Linked DNA regions of Homo sapiens. The protein of the gene in region 2 interacts with the protein of the main gene of each other region in a pairwise test. Each region holds a gene or a part of one and is shown on either strand. Other genes may lie near its edges. The genes, in order: PGLS, PLSCR1, BCL6B, CCDC33, DEPP1, DTX2 and CCER1.

Region 1 (4,256 bases), on a different chromosome or scaffold from region 2:
GGGAAGGAAGGGAGGGAAGGAGGGAAGGAAGGAAGGAAATAGGGTCTTTGCAGATGTAATTAGTTAAGAACAAGTCATAGTGGATTAGTGTGGGCCCTAAATCCAATGACTGGCGTCCTTATATAAGATGAGAAGACACACAGAATCCAAGAAGGCCATGTGCAGACAGAGACAGGAATTGGAATGGTGTGACCCCAAGCCAAGGAACGCCCAGAGCCCCCAGAAGATGAGGAGAAAATGAAGGATCCTCCCAAAGAGCTTTCAGATGGGGCGTGACCCCACCAACACCTTGATTTCAGACTTCTGGCCTCCAGAACGGTGAGAGAATAAATTCCTGTGGCTTTAAGCCGCTCAGTTTGTGGTCATTCGTTATGTAGCCCTAGGGAACCGATATGATTCCCCTCACAGAGAACCGGCAGAAGGAGCAAGTCCTGGCTTCAGGTTTGCTCCCATCACACGGCTTTGGCCTTAGCTGAGCCCTCTTGCCACAGCTTGACCATGGCCAGCTCCTGCACATGCTCCAGCTCTCAGCTCAAATGGCACCTTCTCAGGACCTCCCACCCCATAGCCCTTGACGAATGCTCACTCCCTATTCCCTAGCACTCTGCAGCATTTCACAATTATTTATTTTGAGACAGAGTCTCAACTGTCGCCCAGGCTGGAGTGCAGTGGCATGATCTCAGCTCACTGCAACCTCTGCCTCCCACATTCAAGCGATTCTCGTGCTTCAGCCTCCCCTGTAGCCGGGATTACAGGCACACGCCACCACACCCAGCTAATTTTTGTATTTTTAGTAGAGATGGGGTCTTGCCATGTTGGCTAGGCTGGTCTCCAACACCTGACCTCAGGTGATCCACCATCCTTGGCCTCCCAAAGTGCTGAGATTACAGGTATGAGCCACCACGCCCGGCCAAAAACCTGCTTTTTTTTTTTTTTATCTTTAAGACAGTCTCACTCTGTCGCCCAGGGTGGAGTGTAATGGCATGATCTCGGTTCACTGATCATGCCTCACTCCTGCCTCAGCCTCCCGAGTAGCTGGGATTACAGGTGCGCACCACCACACCTGGCTAATTTTTGCATTTTTAGTAGAGACAGGTTTCACCATGTTGGTCAGGTTGGTCTCAAACTCCTGACCTCGTGATCCGCCCGCCTCAGCCTCCCAAAGTGCTGGGATTACAAGCGTGAGCCACCGCACCCAGCCAATTTTTGTATTTTTTTTTAGTAGAGACAGAGTTTTGCCATGTTGGCCAGGCTGGTCTCGAAATCCTGACCTCAGGTGATCTACTCACGTCGGCCTCCCAAAGTGCTGGGATTACACGCGTGAGCCACCGCACCCGGCCAAAACTTTTTAATGATGCTCTTGGAAAACACACACAGGAAGGCGGAAGTTAAATGTGTACCCAACTACGAAGTCAGATGAGGCAGGATCACACCCTGGCTGCCCCTCTGGTCACTAGATGCCTTGGGCAGGTAAGCTCACCTCTTCTGGCCTCAGTTTCTCCATCTGTGAAATGAGTGTAACATCTCATAGGCTGTGGTACGGACTCATGAATTGATGCATATAAAGCGTTCAGTAAGCCTTTTCTCTTAATAAAAAACCCACAAAACCATCATCAGCTCAAGATTCTATGCAAAGAGAAGACGGCACACCCAGCATGGGGTGTCCCTTGACGCTGCCAGACTCAAGTGACTTGAGGTTCCTGGCCTTTGAGCCCGCCCCTCCCACTCTTCCCTCGGCCAGGCCAAGGCTCCTCCAAGCCTCAGTTACCCTGTCTTTAAAAGAGCGCGCTCCTCTGATTCTATAGAATCCTGAGGCTCAAAGCCAAAGATGAACAGCCTGGAAGCAGAGCCATCAGAGCGGCAAAGCTGCCCAGGGATCCCCGAGAACTCGCTGGGGTTAGAGATCAGGACCCTGAGATTCAGGCTCTACACCTGATTCCTCGTGCCCCCGTCCGCTACGGGGCTGAGTTATGGGCATCGTTTGACATGGGCCACTCGGATTCCCTTCCAGGCCCTTGCCCGTGCCGTTCCCTCTGCCTGGCCACCGGATGAAGCAGGAAGACGGACTGCAAGTAGACCATTTCTAGCCCTGCCTAGATAAAGGCAGAGGGCGCAGTGAGGTCCTGCGGGACCCACTGTAGGCGGGGTTCAGGAGGCGGGCGAGCCCTGTCGGCTAGACCCCCAGCGGCCCCCGTAGTCGAGGTGCAGGCAGTGGGCGTGACCATCTCGGCATGACCCCCAGTGGCCCCCGTAGCCGAGGGCAACCGGTGGGCGCGGCCCTCTTGGCATGACCCCCAGCGACCCACGTAGCCGAGGTGCAGGCAGTGGGCACGGCCCTCTTGGCATGATACCCAGTGGCCCCCGTAGCCGAGGTGCAGACAGTGGGCGCGGCCCTTTCGGCATGGCCCCCGGCGGCCTCCGTAGCCGGGGTGTAGGCGGTGGCTGTGGCCCTCTCGGCGTGATCCCCGGCGGCCCCCGTAGCTCTCACCCGGTAGAGGCCGTACGTGCTCTCGGCGTGATCGAAGGGCACGAGGCGCTCGTCGCAGAAGCCCAGCGTCCAGCGCGCTAAGCTAGCTGGCCCGGCAGGGGCGACGGCGGCGGGTAGCTCGCGGGCTAGCATCGAGACGAGGCTCCCGCCCGACAGGCCGAGCGCGAAACGGGCGCGGGCCCCTGCCAGGCAGCATGCTGCGCGCTGGGCCACCAGCTGCGCTAGCGCCGCACCCAGCTCCTGGGAACTCGAGAACACCGAGATGAGGCCCGGGGCCGGCGCGGCCATGGCGAGGGCGGCGGCGGGGAGGAGGAAGCGCTCCCTACGGCCGTCGCTAGTACGCCTGCGCAAGGGCCGGCCCTGCCGCTTGGTTTCGAGTACTTTGGGTGATTGTCTTTGGCACATGCGCAGTGAGGCAAGTGAAGCACCGCGAAGGTCGGGCAGTCGGTCCGGCCCTACCCATTGAATCTTTGCCTGCTGTGCCTGAGTCGAAGTGAGTTCGGGAAGCCAGTGCCCGAATGCTCAACCTTGCTGTATCAGGGAGGGCCGGAGAGGGGAGCTCAAGAAGAGGACGTCCTATCGAGGTGGCAGGGATTTTCTGAAGGAGGGCGTATTTTGGTGAGTTTTAAAATTCCTGCACCGCCGGGCGCGGTGGCTGACGCCTGTAATCCCAACACTTTGGGAGGCCGAGGCGGGCGGATCACGAGGTCAGGAGATCGAGACCATCCTGGCTAACACGGTGAAACCCCGTCTCTACTGAAAACACAAAAAATTAACCGGGCGTAGTGGCGGGCGCCTGTAGTCCCAGCTACTCGGGAGGCTGAGGCAGGAGAATCGCTTGAACCGGGGTGGCGGAGGTTGCAGTGAGCCGAGATCGTGCCACTGCACCCCAGCTTGGGCGACAGAGCGAGGCTCCATCTCAAAAAAAAGTAGGGGATGAAAATATGCTTGTTGAATTTTTTTTTTTTTTTTTTTTACATTTTCCGGACGGACGGGCTCTTGCTATATGGTCTAGGCTGATCTTGAACCCCTGGGCTCAAGCGATCTTCCTGCCTCGGCCTCCCAAAGTGGTAGCATTCAGGCGAAAGCCACTGCGCCTGGCCATGCTTGTTGAATTTTTTAAGCTAACCCTCCTAGTGTGGTGGTGTGTCCCTCTGAGTGCCCAGAAAGGCCTCCAATCGAGTTCTTGCCTGGACAGAGGGCTGGAAGGGGAAGAAGGCCTGGTGGGCCTGGGGAGGCTGGGCCACTTCTGAGAGTGGGATATTTCAGTGATGTGTGTAAGCGCAGTTCAACTCACACAGGTAGTGGATTTTAAAATCAGTAGCAAATTAAGAAAACAATTCCATTTACCATAGCATCATAAAGTATAAAGTAGGCATAAATTTAATAAAAGAAGTACAAGACTGTACTTCTTGAGAGCTGTAGCTGGGCTTGGTGGCTCACAGCTGTAATCCCAGCACGTTGGGAAGCCAAGGCTGGACCCGGTGGCAGCTGCCTGTGGTCCCAGCTACTTGGGAGGCTGTGGTGGGAGGATCACTTGAGCCCAGGAGACTAAGGCTGCAGTGAGCTGTGTTCCTGCCATTCCACTCCAGCCTGGGCAATAGAGTGAGACCCTGTCTCGAAACAAGCAAAAGAACTAAAACTTTGGTGAAAAAAAAAATTAAAGATGATCTAAATAAATGGTAAGACATTCCACGTTCATGGATTGGAAAGTATAATATTGTTAAGATGGCAGTACTCCACAAATTGGTCTACGGATGCAATGTAA
Region 2 (2,964 bases):
CCTAGAAAAGATTAGCAGTTTGGAGTAAAGGCAAATACCAATAAGTAACTTGATGAAATGCCCCACGCCAAGGGTTGAGGTTGAGAGTGGATAACTAGTGGGGTGTGAATAAAAGATGAAGAGTGTATGAACAAATGAGCTCCGAAGTAGAAGTTTCCTAATTTTACAATTCTGCCTGAGGAAAGCCCAGGGCCATCATATAGGGTTGAATGGACTTTGCTCAGACTAAGGCAACTCCTCTAGGAGGGCAGGTGGGGACTGAATGTAGCTGAAATTCACAAAACTATGTACACATATAGTTGTATTAACAGAGGAGTGTCCTTTTCAGCTAAATAAATGTGGGGAATCTAAAAATACTTGACTCATTTTATTTGAGTACAAGTGGATAGTTTGTAAAATACTAGAAATAAACATCTAATATGAAGCTGATAGCATAATACTGTTCATCAAATATTCATTTCATTCCCTCTCCTTCTGTAGGGCCAGTATACTTCCTGTTCCTTCATAATTAGGCTTGGCCATGTTACTTGTTTGAACAACGGGTGTTAGCAGATATGACATGAGTAGTGTCCTTAAACTTGGCTAAGTGCTTTGGCCTGGCTTATGATCTTCAGTGACAAGCCACTAGAAAAGCATGACTCAGGTAGCTGCTGCTGCTACAGCCATAGAACAAATCTACCTGGAGCAGATTGAGGTTAACATGCGCCTAAGTCAGTGCTTAAATACATCCACTGAAACACAGTTGACCTACACACCCATAAGCATGAGTATAAACACTTATTGCAAGCTGCTGAGTTTTAGGGATTATGTGTAATGAAATACTACTGTGGTGAAATAAACTAATACAAATCCTTTCTTGTACATGTTAGTATTTTTCTGCTAATAGCTGTCATTGAAGCATTTGAAGCTAGTAATGAAAACTCTTATGTTTTATTTTTTAATTCTGAAATTTAAAAAAATGAAAAATGCAGCTGACAACTTACTAGCCACCGTAAACTCAACACTATACAGATAAAGATATTAACATTTGCCCTTTTTGATTACTACAGCAAGAAATTTAACAAAGTAGAGAATACATTTTTTATGGCAAGGATAAGAAATGCAAATAATGATCTTCAACCAATAAATTAGCAGGACTAGATAATTTTTAGCTAAATTGTAGACATTTTGGAATAGAAAATCACTATAATAAAATGTCAACATTTGGAAATAATAAATTGGTATTGTATAATGTTAAACTTTCAAATCCATGAGTGCAATACTAATTGGTAAAAGCATTCTAAAAAGAAAACCATAGATTCATCTCACAATGCAAATATAAATGCAAAATACTGAAATATAATGACAGCATATAGGATCTAGGTATGTAGCAAAGAAATATAAAAAGTGTATCATGAGTATATTAATAGTTGCTGGTAAGCTATTTTATTTACTTACTAATGATTTATTTATTTACTGTTATTACACCCAATTTTCATGTAAAAAAACTAAAGCAAAGAGAAGTGAAAGAATTTGTTAAAGTCACATAGATAAGTGTTGTGAAGATGGGTTTCAAACCTGGGCATCTGGCTCCAGTGTCTATACTCTTGACCATTAGGATTGTCTGCTTTTTAAAAACATATTTATTGAATACTAATGAAAATCTAGTTGAGAGGGCAGGAAAAAAAATCTGTGGGCTATAGTTGACCATATAAAATTTATCACTACTCAGGATCAGTTTCTATATTTTGAGATTCCTGAAACACAACAGTGGCAGGAATTCAGATTTCAAGCTCATAGACAGAGCTGACTTGGTATGTCAGTTTCATGTGGCCATATTTTTTCCCCCTACCAAGAGTCCTTGAAGGAGACAGACTCTCTTATCACCTATATTGGATAAAAGGTCTACTAGGCTCTCTCTTACTCACCATTAAGATAACCTTCTTAGAGATTCAATTACTGTCTGTTTGCTGAAAACTCTCCATTCTTTTCCTATACATAACTAAAATCCAACATGACCTTAATTCAAGTCATTAACTTCCCATATATATTTTATATAATCAACTACAGCTCATTGATTATATTTTGCTGATCCCTGACCTAGATGTGTATTAGTATTTGATACCTTACTTTTTAAAAAGCAGACTATCATAATGGTCAAGAGGACACAAATCAAGTGTTTTTCCTCCAAGATTCTTAACTTGGCCAATGTAATATCAGAATAATAACACATCAAGTTTATCTCCAAAATTTTTTTCATCCTCAATTGATATCAAATCCATGAATTAGTTCCACATAGTACACCTATGAAATGCCTCTTGAGTTATTCTCTGTTTTAGAATGACTCCTGCCCCTGCTGTGGAACAGGCTTTTATCTCTTTTATTACTTCAAGTTTCCATGCCCAGTGACACCCTGGTGGATTTCATGTTCCTTAGTGGTCCCTCATACTGATAATTTCTGCTTTGAGGTGTCAAAGTTTCCATTGTCAACTCTATGGAAAATTCTTCAAGTGACTATTTCTCAATTCTTTCCATGAGAGTACCTTGATATCATCATTCTAGATAAATAGAAGAAAAGTTAATTTATTACATGGAATGGATGCTTTAAGGTATCCATCAAGAAAGACTGCCAGATGAAACATAAATTTTTTAGTATCAAATACAAGGATTACACAATGTTTTTCCAGTGTTTTCATTTATTTACTAAAAATAAAATATATGCCAGCCAAACTTCTGTTAATATTGTTCCTTGAATGAGAAATTACTTTTCACTTCTCTGGATGTAGGACAGAGATTCCATCCCTTACATGAAGAACTGCTATTATGCATACCCTTACATAAAATTTTTATACATGCATATTATGCACACATATACATACACACATTATATAATCCCCTTATAAGAGCCTTTTTAAAGTTTCTATATCACATCCTCCTTAGAACTGCAAATCTCTGTCATTAGATTATGAAGTCAATGGGGGAAAG
Region 3 (4,095 bases), on a different chromosome or scaffold from region 2:
GGTGGGAGAGATGCATGCACTGGACCCTGGATAGATTCAAGATACCCTTGCTGGGGGAGGGTGGGCTGGCCCGTTAGTTCTAACTCAGTCTTCTCAGTGCCACCTCCAGCCCCTGTGGTCTTTACGGGACCCAACTCTTATCCATCTTCCTTGGTGATGGAGGCATGTCGCCAGCATTAAGATCTCCAGCACAGATGCACGCCCCGGCCTCTTGATATTATTAGTGGCTTCCTGGTTTCTCCCTGCAGCCTCCACACCTCAGGCAGGAAGTGACTTCAGAGCAGCAGGATGCAGGTGGCTCCGGAGAAACTTCATGAAGTCACTGGTTCCTACACAATGAGCAGGAAGGCAAGGGCAGGGAAGGGGACAACGAGGACCATTTAAAATGTCTGGTGGGAAGGGACAGTGGAATGGTACAGAATCCAAGATGTTATCCAGGAGGAAGAGCTCTCTTCCTCGCTCCCCGAGTCCCCCAAGGCAAGAACCCAGGACACAGCAGGCAGCACAGAGAGGCTTCTTTATTCCAAGGATCTGATGTTGCAAGATCTAACATTTCTACCCCCAGGCATTCTCCACCTGCCCATCCAATCTGCTAAATAGAAATCATGATTCCTTCTTATAGACTCCTCCGCCTTCCCTTCTTCCTTCTTTAATTCTGCAGTGGGGCCATGGGGAGAAAGAGGGAAGAGGGAGAAGAGTAGCTTTCTCACTAGTCCCCAGGCGACAGCCACTAGAACTGACTTATTGTTGAAGTTCTACCCCACAAATTCAAAAGTGCTTCTTACTTTCTACCCTCGTCCCATAATCAGATAAGCCCCAGGGCAACAAGGGGCAGAACTATCAATCAAGGCTTCAGCGCTTCTTCTAACATTTCAGAGACTCCACCCAGCCAAGAGGCAACCCTGTTCCTCACTTTCTACCTACCTGGCCTACACCAGAAACTGCACCCCTCAACCAACCTCTTAATCCTACTTGAAACTTGGTCAACTAGAACAGGCCTTTGGCCTATGGGCTAGTCAATCTTTTACATCTGTAATGCCAACAATAATCCCAACCAAACTACAGCAAACCCAGAATGGAACTCAGCCCCTTTTCTTTTCCTATGGAAGGTTCTAATGCATTCACTGGTTCCAGACAGGAATGCAGGGATGGGAAGACCAGGTCACAGACCCAGCTTTTAAAAGGTAAGGTTACCAAGCACCATCCCTTCTAGAGGAAAAGAAGGTTCTGGCATCTGGACACTTGCCAGAAGATGTCCAAAACCCACTAAAGGAAGAAGGGGCTCAACTCAATAGAGAGAACCCCAGGTAACATTCAAACCCATATGCCTCTGTAGTAAAGGATGGGTTAACACTGTTTACCATCTAATCAAGCTAAAGAGTTTCATGATTCTTCCCTAGGCCATAACATTCATAGAGACTGGGCAGAGTCAGAAAAGGTCACATCATCTCTGATAAGGAATGTCTGATCTCTCCCCCATGGAGCGATCAACTCAGTGCTAAGAACAGGCCCCCGTGGGAGGATGATGGACTCCACTTGAGCCCTGGTGGGTCTCTACCACTATAGATGGATACAGCAGAGCCAAACCCAAGTGACCAGATTAATGGGACATTTTAGATTCTGGACCATCTTGCAGAAAAACCTGCCAGCCTCCACTTGGAGTGATACGGAATCCAGATACAGAATCCCCCACACCCACAGCCTCCAGGAGGCATTTATTATTACTTCCATTTTGGGCTCAACATAATGGTTCCTATCACCCTTGAAGAACAGAGAAATGTCTGTATCCATTTCTAGACTGCTAGAGAACCTACAACATCCAGAATACCAGAGAGGGTTCCTGACCCAATTCCACAATCCCGCATGTTCCCAGAGCTGCCCTAGAACAAATAAAGGTTCCAGACCTAGAATTACAGGGGCAGAACACAGAGAACCCCTTTTTCCATTTTAAACAAACTAACAAGCAAACAAACAGGAGAAAGAACAATTCTAAAGATAAAAGTTATGACAGAAATAATATAAAATACCCAAGCCAAACGAGAGAGCCAAGGGCTAGTAATCTCTGCCAGCAGAGCTGTGATCTCACCTTCTGTGTTTCTGGTCACTTTTAATCACACTTGTGGAAGAGGGGAGTGGGAAATGCAATCGAATGAAGGCCCCGGTGCCACCCAAAGGCCTCAATAAATTATATTTACAGATAAACTGAATGCAATGGGGGCCACAGGTGGAGGGCTATTCCCTTAGGGAGACCAGGACTCCAATCTCTCCCCTTTCCCAGCCCCTAGCTAGCTCTCTCCTCAGAAACAATCTGGCTTGTGGGGAAGAGGTTTTGACCAGCAAAACAGAGGCAGATCTAGCCAGGATCTGCCACCCCTGCTCTCCCCAGTGAGAAATTAAGAGGGTGGCAATTTCTGATACCAAAGTGGCCTGGCACACCCCTATGCCCAAGCCTGATAGGGAAGCAAGGCCTGGGCCTGCAGCTTTCCCACCCGCAGGAAGCAAGTGGGGCCTGGGCCTGCGCTCAGCTAGGGCCCCCCGAGAATGTGGTAGTGCACTTTGGTGTTGGTAGCAGCTCCGTGTTTCTGGCGCAGATGCAGCCGCAGTTGACTCTTGTGCCGGAAATGCAGGCCACAGGGGTCGCACTGTGGGAGGACAGCCAAGTCAGGCCCTGCCCCATCCACAATCACCTTTTAGGTGTTGAGCCGGGCGGCCGTCCAGCTCTCCCAGGTGGGAACTATCCAGCGGAAGATCAGCTCTTTGACTCTCACATCCTCCCAAATCCTCAGGGGTGGCTGAGGGGATAGGCCCCGCCTTATTTAGCAAAGGTTTTCCCACTTCTCAGCTCCTCTCTGAGAAAACAGTGCTCAGCCCAGGAGCATCACTTCTATACCTGCCCATCCTGACTCCCAGCCTCCACCCCTTATTTGCTTGGACTCTTCCGGCCACCGCTCATTTCTAAGAGATCTAGGGACAGCCAGGCCCGCACCTCTCAGAGCCCACCCCTAGGCAAAGGAGAGGTAATTCTAAGGCAGTGGGCAGGCCAGGTTGGGTACCCACGTGGTAAGGCTTCTCTCCGGTGTGGATGCGAACGTGGCTCTTGAGGGTCTGCAGGTGGCGGAAGCGGGTTCCGCAGGTAGGGCAAGGGTAGGGCTTCTCCCCGGTGTGGATCAGCACGTGCGCCCGCAGATGTGCCACCTGGGAGGGAGGAGACTTCAAGTCCTGCCTCTGGGAGGAACAGAACCCTCCCTATTGGCCCACCCCACCTCTTGCAGGTTTGCCTTGGAAGCCACTTGGAGGCTGGCTCCGTACCTGTACAAAGCGCGAGCCGCACGTCTCACACTTATACGGCTTCTCTCCCGAATGGATGCGGCTGTGCGTTTTCAGGTTTGCTGGCCGGTTAAAACGGGCTCCGCAGATTGAGCAGTGGTAAGGCTTTTCCCCTGGAGGCAGAGAACATGGGAGATCAGGGACTTTGCCCTAGGACAGCTGTGGGCTTGAAGGCCAGGGCCCTCTCTTCCCCTACCTGTGTGCACTGTACGATGACTGGCAAGGTTGCCCTTGTAGCGGAACGAAGACCGGCACAGCTGACACTTATAGGGTTTGTCTTCGTCCCCAGGAACCAAGGAGTCCAGCCCCGATGAGCACCCTGCCACAGCCTCACAGTTCTGGCAGCTGAAAAATTCACTTCCTGGGAAGGGGAATGGGTGACGGCAACCATAGTTATTAATGAGGGCTATCTAGGTACTACTGAATCCTCAAACCACACAGTAGCAGGCTTTCTGTTTCCCAATTTATTGTTAAGACTTCTGGGGCTGGTTTGACTTGCTCAAGGCCAAGTAAGAAGATAGTAAGATGAGCCAGATCTGACTGCACATCTGTCTGACTCGAGTACTCAGCTAATCTCCTCTTCAATAGCAGTGGTGGGGGCCAGGTACGGTGGCTCACGACTGTAATCCCAGCACTTTGGGAGGCCGAGGCGGTCGGATCACAAGGTCAAGAGATGGAGACCATCCTGGCCAACATGGTGAAACCTCGTCTCTACTAAAAATACAAAAAGTAGCTGGGTGTGGTGGCACGTGCCTGTAGTCCCAGCTA
Region 4 (3,500 bases), on a different chromosome or scaffold from region 2:
CCACTCCTGCTTTGTAACCTCCTGCTGGGACCCCGCTCGGCTCTCTGAAAGCTGCGCCAATAGAAGCCTGGAGTAGAGGAGAGGGCAGTCAGGACTGGGAGGCAGGGAAGCCTTTAGGGGGTGACAGAGGACTGAGGAGGGAACAACCAAGGGCGGTCAGGGGAGTGACAACCGGGATCTGATGAAGAAAGAGGAGCCCAGAGATGCGGATGCTATGATCCTGTTCCAAACCAGTACTTCCTGGGGAAACCAGCAAGGCAGGAGAGCAGGCACCAGGGTGAGCAGTGGAGCAGGCACCAGGGTGATGGGCACGAGGGAGGCAAGGGGAGCCTGGCTGTGGCCGCTGATCTCAGGAAGTTCAGCATGGTCGGAGAAACCAGACCTGGGCTTCCTGTCTTCAGTTTATAAAGTGCTCTCTCACAAACGATCTAATCAGAGACCCCTCACAGCCCTGGGAGGAGCCTCATTTGACTGACAGAAACCAAGGAGCTGGAACACCTAGCCCTACCCCTAGCCCAACCCCTCCCCAGGAGCCAGTGGAGGGGCCGAGGTTAGAACACAACCTCCCTTCCCAGGACCCAACTCTCATCGTACCCTTTCTCCCCAAAGAAACTAGTGTAAGAGATCCATTGGTAAATCCCAGGACAGAAAGCGGGAGCAGTTGCCTCAGCTCGGCAGAGAAGGCTTCCTGAGGGAGGGCAGCCTGGTGCAAAGCAAGAACCGAGTAAGGCAGGGAACAGGGAGAAGCAGGTGTCAAGTGTGGAGGCAGCCATGAGCTCACGGATGGGGAAAAAGAGGGTAGGCAGTCTGGCTGGCTGTCTCTGGAAGGTCCCAAGGCCACATGGTGTTCACCTGCCTCCTCTCCTCTCCTCTCCAGATCTTTCTCCGGGGAGTCAACGAGCCCCTGGCCAACAACCCCAACCCCATAGTGGTGATTGCCCGGGTCGTTCCCAACTACAAGGAATTTAAGTGAGTGGGGCCCAGGTGGACCTGGGTGAGGAGGGCAGAGCAGAGGGCAGAGGAGGGGGTGAGGCTGTCATTGCTGCCATGGGCTGATTCCAGGACCTCCGGCAACCCCTCTACCCCTAAGGCCCTTCAAGCCTCTCCATTGGGTCTGAGGTCCCAGTAAGCTTCCTGCAGCAGACCATGCCTTTCTTTCCCCAGGGAGAGCCCAGGCCCCTGGAAAGGGGCAGCTCAGTCCTCTCCTGAGAGCAAGCTGGAGGGCAGGTGGTGGGGATGAGTGCCGATACCAGGCCTAACAGCTAGAGAGTGTGGGGAGGACAACAAGAGGGGTCCTCATTCCCTGCTCAGGGAACCTCAGCCCCTCCAACCTGCCTCCCTGCCTCACACCCACCACCTCCCCACTCCCCCTCCCACTCTAGCTCAGGGCCACAGGCTCCAGCCAGTGGTTGGCCCCAAAGGCCATCTTGGAACTTCACAGCCTTTAGCCCTGCCGGGCGGAGTCTCCTCCCTCCTCATCCTGGAGGTCTCCCTGGTCCCAGCCACAACTCATCCCCTCCTCCCCTAGACCTCCTTTTGAGTCTGTTGGAGTCACAGTCCTCAAGAGGAGATTCATACTTTGCCACACAGTGGGAAATTCCCCTATGAACGTGTGCTCTCTGCCACAGCACCGACTCCTGGGAGTCAGGGTCTGTCTTGGTCACTTCCAACTGGCCCTGATGGCCCAAGATGACTCCCCTACTTCTCTGTATCTCCTGTTGAGTTTTTATGACTTATGAAGCCCCCTTGCTTGTTGGAGGAAGGAAGATGATTGATGCACGCCCAGCCCAGTGGTCCCCACTTGTCGTGAGGTCCAGGCCCGAACTCGGCGGGATCCCTGCAACTCCCTTCTCTTGCATCAACCCAGAGTCTAAGCGGGGGGCCCTGGGCTGCCAGGCTCAGGTGCAGAGCCCAGAGCACTGACCCTGTCTCCCTGCCTCCCCAGGGTCAGCCAGGCTAACAGGGACCTGGCCTCTGTGGGGCTGCCCATCACCCCACTGTCCTTCCCTATCCCGTCCATGATGAACTTTGACGTGCCTCGCGTCAGCCAGAACGGATGCCCTCAGGTATGTCTCCTCCCCAGTGGTTCCAGCTTCCTGTAACTACCCCACACATTCACTGTTCACTCACTCAGTGAGTCAGTCAGCAGTTCCCTTGACTATCGAGTAAGAGTTGACTGAATCCCACGGCATACCCAGTGCTGTGCTCGCCTGTGCGGCAGAGAAACTGCCCTCCAGGAACTCTTGGTCTGGTGAAGATGGGAGTCACGTGGGTGAAAAAGTTGAACATCAACACAAGATAATGTATAATCTAATAACAAACTGGGAGGGCCTGTCAGGGCTATCACATCAGAGGAGAAGATACAAAAGGACAAATATATGATTCCACTTATATGGGATACCTAGAATAGGAAAATTCAGAGTCAGAATGTAGAACAGTGGCTACAGGGGCTGGGGAAAGGGAAGAATGGGGAGTTACAGGTCATAAGTACCTAGTTTCCGTTTCAAGTGATGAAAAGTCCTGGAAATAGATAGTGGTGATGGTTACACAACAATACGAACAAATGAATGCATTTAACATTACCGAACTGTACATTAAAAATGGCTACAATGGTGAATGTTGTGTTACGTATATTTTAACCCAGTAAAAAAATTTTTTTTGAGACAGAGCCTCGCTCTTGTCTCCCAGGCTGGAGTGCAGTGGCGCAGTCTTGGCTCACTGCAACCTCTGCCTCCCGGGTTCAAGCAATTCTCCTGCCTCAGCCTCTCGAGTAGCTGGGCTTATAGGCACATGCCACCATGCCTGGCTAATTTTTATCCTTTTAGTAGAGACAGGGTTTCACCATGTCGGCCAGGCTGGTCTCGAACTCCTGACCTCAGGTGATCCACCCGCTTTGGCCTCCCAAAAGGCTGGGATTACAGGCATGAGTCACTGCGCCCAGCGAAAAATTTTTTTTAATCAGAGGAGAGGGATGTAAAGCCTGGATTAGGGAAGGCAGTCTTGAATTTTTTTTTTTTTTTTTGAGACAGAGTCTTGCTCTTGTTGCCCAGGCTGGAGTGCAGTGGCACCATCTTGGCTCACTAGCAACCTCCGCCTCCCAGGTTCAAGCAATTCTCCTGCCTCAGCCTCCCAGGTAGCTGGGATTACTGGCACCCGCCACCATGCCCGGCTAATTTTTGTATTTTCAGTAGAGATGGAGTTTCACCATGTTGGCCAGGCTGGTCTCAAACTCCTGACCTTGTGACCTGTCCACCTCGGCCTCCCAAAGTGCTGGAATTACAGGCATGAGCCACTGCACTCAGCCGGCAGTCTTGAATTTTTAACAGAGGAAGGGTTGGTACAGGTTGGACACAGCAATAGCACAAGTGTGAGGTGGAGACAGGCAGGCTATGACCCATGTCAGGGCAGACAGGAGGGCTGTGTGTTTGAGTATGAGGTTGGGGGCGGGTGCACGCACAGAACATGGCTGGGTTCAGGGGAATAGCCAGATTGGTCTCTTC
Region 5 (4,051 bases), on a different chromosome or scaffold from region 2:
CTGGATCTCTCCCGAGGATGATGATTGGCTAAAGGCTGCCCCGGCTAAAGGCTGCCCCACACGTTTGCCCAAAGTCAGGGACCTGCAGGTTTGAGACCACCACAGAGACACAGTGGGCTGTGACAGATACAAACATTTGTCTACAGTGCTCATAAATGCAGCTCCAAGTTCACATGCGCAGATTCCCAGCCCTTGCAGGGTGTGAAGAACATTGCTGATGTCCCCATTTTATAGATAAGGAAACTGGGTAATTGCTTGTCTGAAACTTTTTCCTTTTAATATGGTTTACATTCTATCTCCAGAGAAAACACACTTAACAGAAGACAGAAAACATTTAACAAATCCAAAGCAATTAAAAATAGCCACAAAAAAAGAGAATAACCTAGACTGACAGCTCACAGAGCAAGGAGGTGGCAGAGACCTGCCCAGGTGAGCTTGGCTGTTGCCCCCAGCTCAATCTTCCTCCTCTCCTCTCTCTGTCCCTTCACCTCTGATCAGTCCCAGCCTGATTCCCGTTCCCTGATGCCTCACCTTCTTGCTGCCAGATGCCTCTAGGAACTAGGGTCCTTCAGACTCCAGATGCCCTGACCTGGGCCTTAGGACATCTTGACTTCCCCAGTGGACAGCTGGACAGTGCCCTGCTCTCACCCACAGCTGGGACCCTGACCATGCCATGAGGCCCCTGTGTGGAAGTGGTGTAGGGGTGGGGATGGTAGCACTGAGTGGTACAGATTCTATCTTGGCCCTCATCATGGGGGAACTCTCCCAATGCCACCACAGGACGTATGAGTTGTAGCCAGCAGAGTGCCCCAGTGGTGCCAGGTGACAGTCCCCCGGAATACATTAGTGCATTTGCTAAGACTCCATGTGTTCTCTTGGGCCTCACAGAACATGGGCTTTGAGGGTGGGAGCCAAGAGGCAGACTTGGGAGTGCCCGAGGCCTTGTTCTGAAACACCTGGGGGGCTGACACCCCCACTACCCTCACACCCCTACCACCAGTTTCCCCACCAGCGATGATGGTAGCTACTCAGCCAGTGGGCTCCTATATGCGGTTACACGTCAGAATGGCCTGGGAGGCAGGTGCCAGTAATTATCCCTATATTACCCATGAGAAACTGAGGAACACAGATGTTAAGTAAGTTGCTCAAGGTGATCAGCCAGCAAGGGTCAGAGCGAACGGGATTGGTAACATCTCCTCATGTGAAACAGGCTGTTATCATATTCAGAGGGGGTCGGTCTCACTGTGAACTGCCCAAGCAGGGGCCTCTGCAGAAAAGCATTTCCCTTTCAGAGACCTGCCAGGGGCAGTGACCACCATGGAGGAGACGAGAGGAGATGCAGACCCAGCATGCTCTCTACAGAAGCCTTTACTGGGGAGGGGTCAGAGTTCATGGATCACCGGGAGGTGCGAGTAGAGTGTTCTGAGGACACTGCTGGGGCGGGGGCGGTGGCGGGAGGCCATGGCTTGGGCAGACTGCCCAAAAGTCCAGCTTCTTAGGTCAGAGCTCTGCTGCCCATCCTGCGGTGGTCTTGCCAGGGAATGCCCAGGCATCCTGGCTTCACAGAGCCTCCCTCTGGGGGCCCCCATGGGCTTGCTGCTGTCCATCTGTCTATGTGGACCCCAGAGGCCAGCAGAGGGGCCAGTCCTCCTTGGCAGGTCCCTCTGGCTTGGCTGCTTTTCCTGGGACTCCCCAAAAAGCCAGTCCAGGGGGTCCACAGTATCAGCCATGGGCAGTGTGGGCTGCTGGCCACTGAAACGTGCGGTGATGTCTCGCAGGGACACAGCAGGGCGGCCCTTCCGGCAGGCCTGGGCTGGCCTGTGGGGTGGCCTGGGTTGGCCCTGGGCCGTGGCCTTGTCCAGCACAGAGGTGGGCTGTGCCAGTCGAGATATAGACCTCACGTAGTCATCCAGGCTAGGAGAGGGTGGGGGCTCCTGTCCAGGACCCCCAAGCAGCATCTCCTCCGTGGTCTCCCGAATTGTGGGCAGATGGGCCACGGAGAGCAGAAGCCGGGACCTCATCACTCTGGCGAGAGGAGGTGGCAACCTGTTGGGAAACAGAAGCCTGGTGGTGAGGGCCTGCCATGCGTCCCACCGCCCCTCAGCGTCACCACACTCCTCTGGGGCTGCCTGTAGGAATCCGGTGCCCTGAGAGCAATTTGAAGTCTACAGAGCCCAGACCAGAGCTCCGACTGCTGGGATCTTTTCTTCCTGTTCAGGTTAAAAACCCCAAAGGCTTAAGATTTTATCATTATCGTTTCAGAATGTGCACAGATAAGAGAACCTAACCTAACAAACACTGGTCAGAGGAAGGCTGGGTTTAAAACCAGGATCGGCCACGCACTGACCATGGGACCTTTGGCAAGGCCACCTCTCCAGGCCTCCACTTACCCATCCATAAAACAGGGTTATAAATACCCCTGGCCGGGATGTTGTAGGAAATGCATGAAATAACCCCTGAATCCCTTTATAAATGCAAAGCCCTCTACAGACAGCCCTGGTCTCTAACCCATAGGGAGGCTGTGCAAGTTCAGGCTGGGAATTGCCCTCAAAAATAAACAAAGCCCTTGTGTTTTGTCTCAAACCCAAGGGCAGCTGCTCTCTCTTACCTGGAGCTGAGGAGGTCTGGGGGTGGCAGGAGAATGGATGAGCAGGGACAGTCCAGTCCAAAGGAAGCCCCTGGGAAGCTTGGGGGCCGAAGGGTGGAGGGTCCGGCAGGGGGTCCAGCGTGGGGTCGCTGGGAGGAGGACAGTGCACTGAGTCTCACAGTCCACCGTAGCAGGCTCTTCCCTGAGCAGTGTGAAGAACCTTCGCAGGCAAGCTGCTTTTATACCTTCCCAGCAGCTATCAATCACTGTCACGAGGGCCAAAAATAGCCTGCTCGGAAGGCTGTCTTAGGAAAACAGCTTGGTGGGCGGGGCCTGGCCCAGCTGCCAGCTTGGAGGTGTTTTTCTGCCTGTAGGAGGCTGGGGAATGTTTACGCTGCAGGGCAGGAAAGGGGTGGGTTCACTGCTGGTCAAGTAGGGGCACTGGGAGAGGGAGGGGTTCCACTGGGCCCTCACAGGTAGCCCCAGGGCCACCCCTGCCCCAAAGCTTGTTTCCCACTCTGTGTTACACCACCCCATCATGACTCCTGTGAAGTTGGGCCAGGTCCTTGGCAACTTTGATGAAAAATCAGCAGCACAGGACCCCAGTCTGGAGGCAGCTGAGGCTGGGTCCCTAGGCCTGCTCCTAGGAGAGACACACCCTGCTCGCAAGGGACCAAGGGCGGTCTGCGGGGTCTGACCCTGGTCTTCTTACACCCCAGATGGGGTGCTTTCGGAGGATTTGTTTGTTTACTTGTTCACCAGATATGAGGTGCTAGTGTGTGCTGTGAATGCACTAAGCACAGCAAACGTAGCAGCGGACAAAGGTGTGGCCCCCTGGAGCTCATATTCTAGTAAGGGAGGAGATCAAGCCAGAGATGAATGGGTGCTGTGATTCAGGCAACAGCAAGAACTGCCTGAAGGAAAGCAGCGCAGTGGCATGCTGTGGTGGGCTGCCGCCACAGGTACAGTGGTCAGGGGTGTCTTCCCTAAGAGCAGATATTGGAGCAGAAACCTGAAAAAAATGGGAAAATGCACATTCCAGGTGGCAGGGGCAGCACGTGCAAAGCCCCTGTGGTGAGGGCGCGCCGGACAGACATGCTCAGGGCACAGCAAGGGGCCTGCAGACTGGCCCATGTAGGAGGGGGTCAGTGGACCTTGGGGTGGATGCTGTGTTTCCCTCTAGGAGGGAGGGAAAGACTGCAGGGTTTGAACAAGGGCACTGCAGTCTGGCTTCTGCTTCAAAGGATCGCTGCAGCTGCTGGGACTGGGCTGGGGCTGGGGCTGGGGGGCTGCCAAGGAGCACCTGGGCAACATTAGAAAGCCACTGCATCTGTCCAGGAGTGACCATGCCAGCAAAGGAGGCTGCCAAGGATGAGAGAGGCAGCCCCTGGGAAGCTCCTGCACTCCCCAGACAGGCCACAGATCCTCTGCCCCAGCCACAGCCCCACCTGGAACACGCCTGCC
Region 6 (3,500 bases), on a different chromosome or scaffold from region 2:
CCAGGCACATGTGCCGGGTTGAGAAGCTTTGTTCTTCTAGTGGGGGCGCAGTGGCTGGCCTGGCCGCCCTTCACCCCTGAGTCACGCCATCTGTTCCTGGATGGGGAGTGGGGTCCAGGAGGACTGGGATTTCTACCAACTCCCCCGGCAGCCGGCTGTGCCCAGCTCCTGAGCCAGGTTCTGCAGACCCTGGAAGCCACCTTAAGAGATGGCTAAGAAGCTCTAGGCTTCCCCTTTCTCTGGAGAGGAGGTGCTTTTGACCTAACTGACCGATGACAGGGAGGACCGGGGAGCTGGCACTATGGAAAGTGGGGTAGGCCGAGGGTGTGGCAGGAACGGGTTCGTCCAGCAGGACACGCTGTGTCCCAGGAAGCGCTGGGTCATCAGGGAGCACGAAGGAAGCAGTGTCAGAGGAGAGTCCCCCAGGGCAAGTGTGGGGTTCCCTGCAGGCATCCGGCAGTGGTGAGCTCTGGAAAGAGTGGCCGGTCTGTCCCAGCATAGCTGCTGGCCACAGGCCCACCCTTGCCCGAGGGCGCCAGAGCCACAGCCTGGGGCCTTGCTGCAGCCCAGCCCTCACAGTATGGGGATGCTGCAGTGTGGGAGCAGGCCCAGGGGCCACGTTCCTGCCCGCCTACCCCAGCGCTGTCGCTGAAGGCCCTGGCACCCAGATCAGCCAGGAGGGGCATGGAGCACACACAGCACCCAGTGGAGGCTGGAGGCCTAGTAACTCCAAGCCAGGAGGGCCCAGGGCCTCCTGGGGAAGCTGAGCCCTTGGAGCCAGCCCCACCCAGGAGACCCCGTGCCCCGGGCGGCTTCCTGGAGTGGCGTCCTCCGCCCTCTGCTCTCCTGAAGTCACGGGTCCTGCCCCGGTGCCCACCTGCACACTGAGGGCACGGGCTTGTCTGTTGCTCCTATAGAAACCTGTGGGCTCTGGGGCCAGGGCTACCATGAGCCAGGCTGCCCCACCCTCTGATTCCTGGCCTGGGTAGTCCCCAGGGAGACCTGTGCGTCCCCGTGGCCATTGATGGTGTCACATCCTTGGCCTGAGCAGGGTTTGTTGGCGTCACATGCCGAAGGAGTCTTCTAATGTCTCTCCCTCTCTGCGTGTCTGCTCTCACACCCGTGCAGGCATGACGAGTGTTCTGATGTCAGCCATTGGACTCCCTGTGTGTCTTAGCCGCGCACCCCAGCCCACCAGCCCTCCCGCCTCCCGTCTGGCTTCCAAAAGTCACGGCTCAGTTAAGAGATTGAGGAAAATGTCCGTGAAAGGTAGTTCTTGTTCCCAAAAGCTCTCTGGCCTTTGCTAAGCCTCCTTCCGGCCTCGCTGCCTCTGACTCTTCTGCACAGACCCTCTTCCTTCTCTCTGCTCCCTGACTCCTGGGGGAAGGGGCTCAGTGGCCCTTCTCCCTGCCCCCGCTCGGCAGCAGAGGCGGCCCCTGGAAGCTGACTTTCCACCGCAGCCCCAGAGTTCAGCTCCTCTCCTCCAGTCACAGCTGGCATGAGGGGGCTTGTTCTTGAGGACTTTGTGATTTTTGTAAGCAACAAGTTGTGGGTGAGAGGCGGCGCCCGGCTCAGGATGCGGGGACAACCGTCCCTTCCGCCAGGGCCAGCACGTGTCTCGGGAAAGGCCCCCAGACAGCGGCCCAGGTCTGCTGCCCAGGTCTGCTGCCCTGACCCCCAGCCCTGTGTGGCCGCCACGTGGGCTGCTTGAGAGGGGTCCCTCGGTGACCCCTGCCCTGCTCGTTGCATGGCCACAGAAGAAGGGGCTTTAGGACCACAGCAGGTCCAGGGAGTTACAGCAAGACCTGCTCGGAGCAGCCTGTGATGGTCAAGTTCTGAACCTTTCCCAAGCGGGTGCTGGCCCTGCTTCCACCCCTGGGCTGTGGAAGTGTGGACTGTGGCCAGTCCAGACGCTCTTGAGTGGGCGTGGTGGCGGGCAGGGAGGGTGGCCGTGGCCCTGCTGGCCCTCAGTGTCTGTGTCATCTCAGCAGGTCCTCTCGGAGCCTCCGCTTAGCAGAGGGGCTTGGCGAGGTCTAGGAAATACTCGAAGCGCCTGGCATGCGGCAAGGGTGGCTTCCGATCGTGTCCGACCTCCAGCCCACAGGCGAGGAGGTGGGCTCAGGGAGGGGTGGGCCTCGAGCTCCTGCCCCCAGCCCAGGGCTCTGCACGCCCTGCCCTTCCCCTGCCCTGGGGGAGGAGCCAGACTCGTTGGCAGCCCGGGCTGGCAACCTTCTGTGGCACTCGGGTTTACCTGGGAAGGACACGCTCTTGGTGGGTCGCCTGGCTGGCCCCTTCTGAGACACGTGGCTAATGGAAAGCTCCCTTCTGCTCTGAAAAGCTGCAAGGGCTGGGGTGGGTGGGCGGGGGTGGGATGCTGTGCCCGGCCTCACCAGGGCTGGGCAGAGGCGAGGCCCAGGCTCACCCGGAGATGGCTCTGGAGTTGGCAGGCTTTTCCAAAGGAAAAGGCCCCCCTCAGCCTGAGTAGGGCATTCCAGCCACACGGAGGGCGACCCTGAGCTGGGGGCCATCGTTCTGGTCTGGCGTTCTCGCCACCGTGACAGGATTTGGGTTCGGGCAGTCTGTATGGGTGTGTGGAGGTGTGGGGTGTGTGGGGTGTGTAGAGGTGAGGGTGTGTGGGGTGTGTGGAGGTGAGGGTGTGTGGGGTGTGTGGAGGTGTGGGGTGTATGGAGGTGTGGAGTGTGTGTGGAGTGTGTGTGGAGGTGTGGGGTGTATGGAGGTGGGTGTGTGGGGTGTATGGAGGTGTGAGGTGTGTGGAGGGGTGAGGTGTGTAGGGTGTGTAGAAGTGTGGGGTGTGTGAGGTGGGGTGTGAGGTGTGTGGAGGTGGGTGTGTGGAGCTGTGTGTGGTGTGTGGAGGTGTGAGGTGTGTGGAGGTGTGGGGTGTGTGGAGCTGTGTGGGGTGTATGGAGGTGTAGGGTGTGAGGAGGTGTGGAGGTGTGGGGTGTGTGGATGGGGGTTGGGGGGTGTGGTCTTGCCAGCAGTTTCCCTCCAGGTCACAGCAGCCATGCCATCACAGCAATTCCAGCTTGGTTACATATTCGTCTTTCCCGTTTGAGATCAGGGAACCGAGGCTCAGAGGTGGCATGATTCGTTCACAGCAAGAGAACTAGAATTAAACAAACCGTGCCGACTCCAGCCTCCACCCCACCACGCCACCTCCCTGCCAAACTGTCCCCTCCCTGGCCCTTTTTGGTGTAAAGGGAGTTCAGCAGGTGCAGTTGTGAGCCCTCAGGCTTAGAATTCTCTGCAGCCCCTGAAGGCCGTGAGCTTGGATTCAAACCAGAGCCCCTTCTGGTCCTGGAGTCTGGGACGACCGCAGCCCCACCATGACCTTGGGGTGGAGCCCCTGTCAGGAGCGCCTCCACGGGTGGCACTGGGCTCCCCGTCCCTCTTTCACCCCCGCACGGGCTTGGCTGCTGGCTTCTGTGGTTCTGCTACTCCCACTACCTAGAGAACGCCCCGGGCCGCGCCGATCCTCACCA
Region 7 (4,143 bases), on a different chromosome or scaffold from region 2:
AGTGCCTTTACATATACTATATCATCTCTTTTAGAAGTCATGAAGTATTTACAAATAAGGATGATAGTTAACAGTTACTGAGTACTTACAGGGTACCTGCACTAAGTACTTGAAGGAATTACAGTAAGTCCTCACTTAGCATCATAGGTTCTTGGAAACTGCTACTTTTAAATGAGAAGACATATAATGAAACGTGGTTTTGTTATTGTTGTTGTTTTGCCTCAGCAACGTTATAAGGAAATGACATTGAGCAAAACATTAATATTAGAGGACCTGTTATATGCATTTAATTCTTTACACAACCGTATGGAAAAGGTAGTATAATCATGGTATGGGTAAGGAAACTGAGGCTTACAGAGATTAATAATTGGTGAGTTGAAGTTGAATCCCATTTATTTAAATTAAAACCCATATGCTTAACCACAATGCTTTAAAGGCTTCCCGTGTATATGCTGTATGGTCAGTGAAGGGACAAAAGGAAAGACAATCAGAATATTCCTCTTCCCAAGGACAAACCTGTGGTATTCATTATGGTAATAATAATATTTGTTTAATTGAGGTACACATGTACGGTATATTACCAATAGCAAAGTACCTTCCCAAATGTTATGTCATTTAGTTATCACAAGGGTCCTACTGGGGGTTTGGTAGAACACATAGCAATGTCATTAGGAACCTAACTTTTGGGTCAAACAGGTTTAGGCTTAAATCGTAGCCTGGAAATTTATTAGCCCCACAACCATGGGGAAATTAAGCTCTCAGTTCCCTCATCTGTGACAGGTGATAAGATACGCCTACCTCTCAGGGTAGATGACAGGATTATTTGTCAGTGAGCACATGCAATAATAAATGTTCGTGGTCTTGTTTTATGTATTATGAATCCCAATTCTCAGGAGTAAGAAGAGTTGGCACCGGCCAGAAGGTAAGAGGTTGGGCAAAGTTTCCTTTCTCCAGTAATTTTCCATGATCCCTTAGGCCCTCCAAAGGTGTAGAATGTGGGGTTTTCAAAACTCAAGTTCTCCCGCCCCCACCGGGTTCAGATGAAGGCCCATCTTCTAAACCCCCGCCTCAAGGTGATACAAAGCTTTCGGATAAACTGCCTCCAGACTTGCTTGAATTGAGCAGCAGAAACCCAGCCTGGACCCCTCTTCACCTCCCCCAAACGCTGCGTCACAAGCCCCCTGCGAATGTTCACCTGGAGCCTGGTTCCGGACAGAACCCGGCCTTGCACACAGGGAGGACGATTTCGACCCCAATTGGCTGTTGCCCTGGGTGACCAAGAACGCAGTGGGCACGCGGGAGACCACAGCCAGTATTTAAAGGCTGCCGCTGCCCTCGCCACCACAGTCCTGCCAGGACGGCGACAGTGAAGCACCTGGGTTGAGAGGGAGCAGCAGGTAACTGCGCAACCCCTGCCTCCCCCGGCCCCAGCCCGTGCCTCAGCAGAGCCGGGTGTGGTGGGGACCCGGGAGTGGGTCTCACTGCGTGTCGCCTGCCAACACCTTCCTCCCCCACCATCCTTACCCAGCCCCAGTCCCACCCAGCACACCTGGGCGAGACAACCCAGGTGCGAAGGACAAGCGATTACTACCGAAGAGCGTGCAAACCAGGAAGAGAGCAGCCTCCTGGAGAGGAAAACGTGATCCCAGGGGTAGACACGTGGCGCTGCGTGGAGAGACAGGTTGACGAGACGAGGCTCTTCTGACCGTCCTACCTGGCAAAACTTGACGACAGCTTCAGGTCGCTACCATCTGGACCTCTCGGAGCTCCCTGAACCATGACTCAGACCCTCGACACAAGGGAAGACCCTCTGAACCTGGGCGGCGGTGGCGGCGGCGGCTGTGGCTGTGGCTGGGCACACTCGGCCTCCTTGAGCTCCTGGTCGTCCTGCCATCGAAGGCGCCCGGGTGCTCCAGCGTACAATAGACCGCACCGATATAGCCCCAAGACCGAGTATGGGCCCCCAAGGAAGCAGCCGAAGCAACAGCACGGCCCGGGCTTTTGGTTCCAACCACCCGTGTGCTCTAACTGGGGGTGCTGGGGAGGGCCCTGGCGCCCACCCCCTCCAGGATTCTGGAAATTCCCCTGCCCGGTGCAAGTGTTTCGGGTGTATGGCCTGCACCCTCTCTGCTTTTGCTGCTGCTCCTGCTGGAGCGGGTCCTGGAACCCTGGCTGGGTGAAGCCCCCAGGCAGGAAGAAGCGCTGGGGCCGCAGAGGCCGCGGCCTGCGCCACCACCCTCGCCACTCCTACCCGCGGAGCCCGCCAGCGGATGTGAGCACGCTGCCGCGGCCGGTCAAGCTGTATGAGTGGAGAGAGCCTGGCATGCGAGCGCCGCCCAACACCACCCAATTCATCATGAACCAGATCTACGAGGACATGAGGCAGCAGGAGAAGGTGGAGCGTCAGCAGGAGGCGCTGCGGGCGCAGAAGGCCACGGTGAGCGGCGAGGCCTCCCCAGCCAGATCCTCCGGAAACGACGCGCCCCCTGGCGGCAGCAAGGAAACCTGGGGACTGCAGGAAACTCTGTATGGCTTTGTGCAGAATCCCTCTCTAGCATTCAGTCCCAACCCAGAGGAAAACCAGTCTCTTGCCCCGCTGCTGGTGGAAGAAGAGGAGGAGAAGAAAAATGATGATGAGGAGGAGTATGACCAGGAGGTGTGTGATGCAAAGGAGGCGAGCGAGGAGGAAGAAGAGGTCGAAGATGAGGAGGAAGAGGTCGAAGATGAGGAGGAAGAAGAGGTCGAAGAGGCTGAATATGTGGAGGAGGGAGAGGAGGAGCTGGAAGAGGAGGAGCTGGAAGAGGAAGAGGAGGTCCTGGAGGAGAACGAGCAGAGAGGGGAAGAATTTCACTTGCCTCTGGAAATGCCTTTATCAATCTTCGTAGAGGCTGAAGAAAAGAGAGAGAACTTTATAAGCTGCACTTTTTTAAACCCAGAGCAGATAATTCCCAAAGTGCCACAGGAATCCCTGTTCATGGCACAGGACTTTAACTGTTAGACATCAGAAAAGGGATTGAGAAAAGGGATGGAACTGATTTGAGGCTAAACTGGATTAGCAATTTATTAAAAACTGATTAAAAAGTGAGTTCCATTAATAAACAGATCTATGTAAACACCTTCTTTGGCCATTATAAAATGTTTAAAATTTGATGCGTATGTGTATGACTATGGGTGGGTGGTGGGGAAGCTTTCAAATATAATTTTACTGGAACTGATTAAAGGCCAAGTATTTTATTACTACCATTTGAATATTTTCATTTGGTGTTTTCCCCTCTAGAAAACAGAGTTGCTGTTGTTTTTTTAAATCTGGCAATGCTGAAAAAGCGTTTGTTTTTGAAACAAATTTATACAACTTGGCCACTTAATGAGCTTGGAATCAAGAGATAGTTTATTACATGCGTAAGAAGCACATTCTAACGCTACTAAATGTTCACCAGTGCTCTTAACATAACTGAAGCCATTTTCAATCCCTGTATTTTTTCAACAATATTTTTCCTCATAGATTTTTCCACCATCAGAGTTCATTTTTGAGGGTTATATTTTGTTAACCTCATTTGCAGGCTCTTGTGTCATCGCTTATTGATATTCCTTGTTCCACAGTGCTATGGATCTTCCTCAGAAGAACATGAAGTTGCTTCTGTGGAACTGGTTATCTGCCATGGCCTCAACAATCCATAATCCAGTCATGGAGAGGATTCCCCATGGTCAGAAGTCAACTTGCACATCTAGTTAAAGTCCAAGGTAACTGCAAACAGTGGAACATGGCTTAGGTTTTGAAGCCTCGTTATTGGATATAGTCTTTATCCTAAGTTCTGAGGAGCCATAAAAATAGTTTTCCAGAATGGATTTTTTTTTTTAGATAAAAAGATTATCTACCTTTTGGGGGTGGAATATCTTATTTTGTTTTTGAATTTGTCTTTGTTATAAAGAAGAGTAAAACAAAGATGTGTAAGTGTGAGTCTGTGTGAGCTAGTTTCTGATGTCTAAACAGCAATTACCTATGGAGAATACATCATTCAAAGTAATAGCTTTTGTTCAAACATTTTTAGGAAGTAATAATACATTTCTTCCTGGACAGTTGATAAAAGTTCCATCCATAGCATATTTCCAGAATATCCCTAGATGATGAATTTAAACATGCCT

The links.
Region 1: the proteins of PLSCR1 (region 2) and PGLS interact in a two-hybrid assay, tested with the Homo sapiens proteins (one large-scale study listed by BioGRID).
Region 3: the proteins of PLSCR1 (region 2) and BCL6B interact in a two-hybrid assay, tested with the Homo sapiens proteins (one large-scale study listed by BioGRID).
Region 4: the proteins of PLSCR1 (region 2) and CCDC33 interact in a two-hybrid assay, tested with the Homo sapiens proteins (one large-scale study listed by BioGRID and IntAct).
Region 5: the proteins of PLSCR1 (region 2) and DEPP1 interact in a two-hybrid assay, tested with the Homo sapiens proteins (one large-scale study listed by BioGRID and IntAct).
Region 6: the proteins of PLSCR1 (region 2) and DTX2 interact in a two-hybrid assay, tested with the Homo sapiens proteins (one large-scale study listed by BioGRID and IntAct).
Region 7: the proteins of PLSCR1 (region 2) and CCER1 interact in a two-hybrid assay, tested with the Homo sapiens proteins (2 studies listed by BioGRID and IntAct).

The regions. Positions count from the first base shown.
Region 1 is NC_000019.10:17,510,193-17,514,448, reverse strand, and holds the start of PGLS (6-phosphogluconolactonase), read right to left. Parts: upstream 2,801-4,256; 5' UTR 2,777-2,800; coding exon 2,489-2,776; intron 1-2,488. UniProt on the Homo sapiens protein: Hydrolysis of 6-phosphogluconolactone to 6-phosphogluconate.
Region 2 is NC_000003.12:146,517,644-146,520,607, forward strand, and holds part of PLSCR1 (phospholipid scramblase 1), read right to left. Parts: intron 1-2,964. UniProt on the Homo sapiens protein: Catalyzes calcium-induced ATP-independent rapid bidirectional and non-specific movement of phospholipids (lipid scrambling or lipid flip-flop) between the inner and outer leaflet of the plasma membrane resulting in collapse of the phospholipid asymmetry which leads to phosphatidylserine externalization on the cell surface.
Region 3 is NC_000017.11:7,026,050-7,030,144, reverse strand, and holds the end of BCL6B (B-cell CLL/lymphoma 6 member B protein), read right to left. Parts: intron 3,689-4,095; coding exon 3,524-3,688; intron 3,441-3,523; coding exon 3,310-3,440; intron 3,196-3,309; coding exon 3,058-3,195; intron 2,643-3,057; coding exon 2,526-2,642; 3' UTR 501-2,525; downstream 1-500. UniProt on the Homo sapiens protein: Acts as a sequence-specific transcriptional repressor in association with BCL6. May function in a narrow stage or be related to some events in the early B-cell development.
Region 4 is NC_000015.10:74,270,826-74,274,325, forward strand, and holds part of CCDC33 (coiled-coil domain-containing protein 33), read left to right. Parts: intron 1-877; coding exon 878-969; intron 970-1,945; coding exon 1,946-2,066; intron 2,067-3,500.
Region 5 is NC_000010.11:44,976,010-44,980,060, forward strand, and holds DEPP1 (protein DEPP1), read right to left. Parts: upstream 2,801-4,051; 5' UTR 2,609-2,800; intron 2,047-2,608; 5' UTR 2,022-2,046; coding exon 1,383-2,021; 3' UTR 119-1,382; downstream 1-118. UniProt on the Homo sapiens protein: Acts as a critical modulator of FOXO3-induced autophagy via increased cellular ROS.
Region 6 is NC_000007.14:76,496,209-76,499,708, forward strand, and holds part of DTX2 (probable E3 ubiquitin-protein ligase DTX2), read left to right. Parts: intron 1-1,128; coding exon 1,129-1,269; intron 1,270-3,500. UniProt on the Homo sapiens protein: Regulator of Notch signaling, a signaling pathway involved in cell-cell communications that regulates a broad spectrum of cell-fate determinations.
Region 7 is NC_000012.12:90,952,377-90,956,519, reverse strand, and holds the start of CCER1 (coiled-coil domain-containing glutamate-rich protein 1), read left to right. Parts: upstream 1-1,343; 5' UTR 1,344-1,777; coding exon 1,778-2,998; 3' UTR 2,999-4,143. UniProt on the Homo sapiens protein: Regulator of histone epigenetic modifications and chromatin compaction into the sperm head, required for histone-to-protamine (HTP) transition.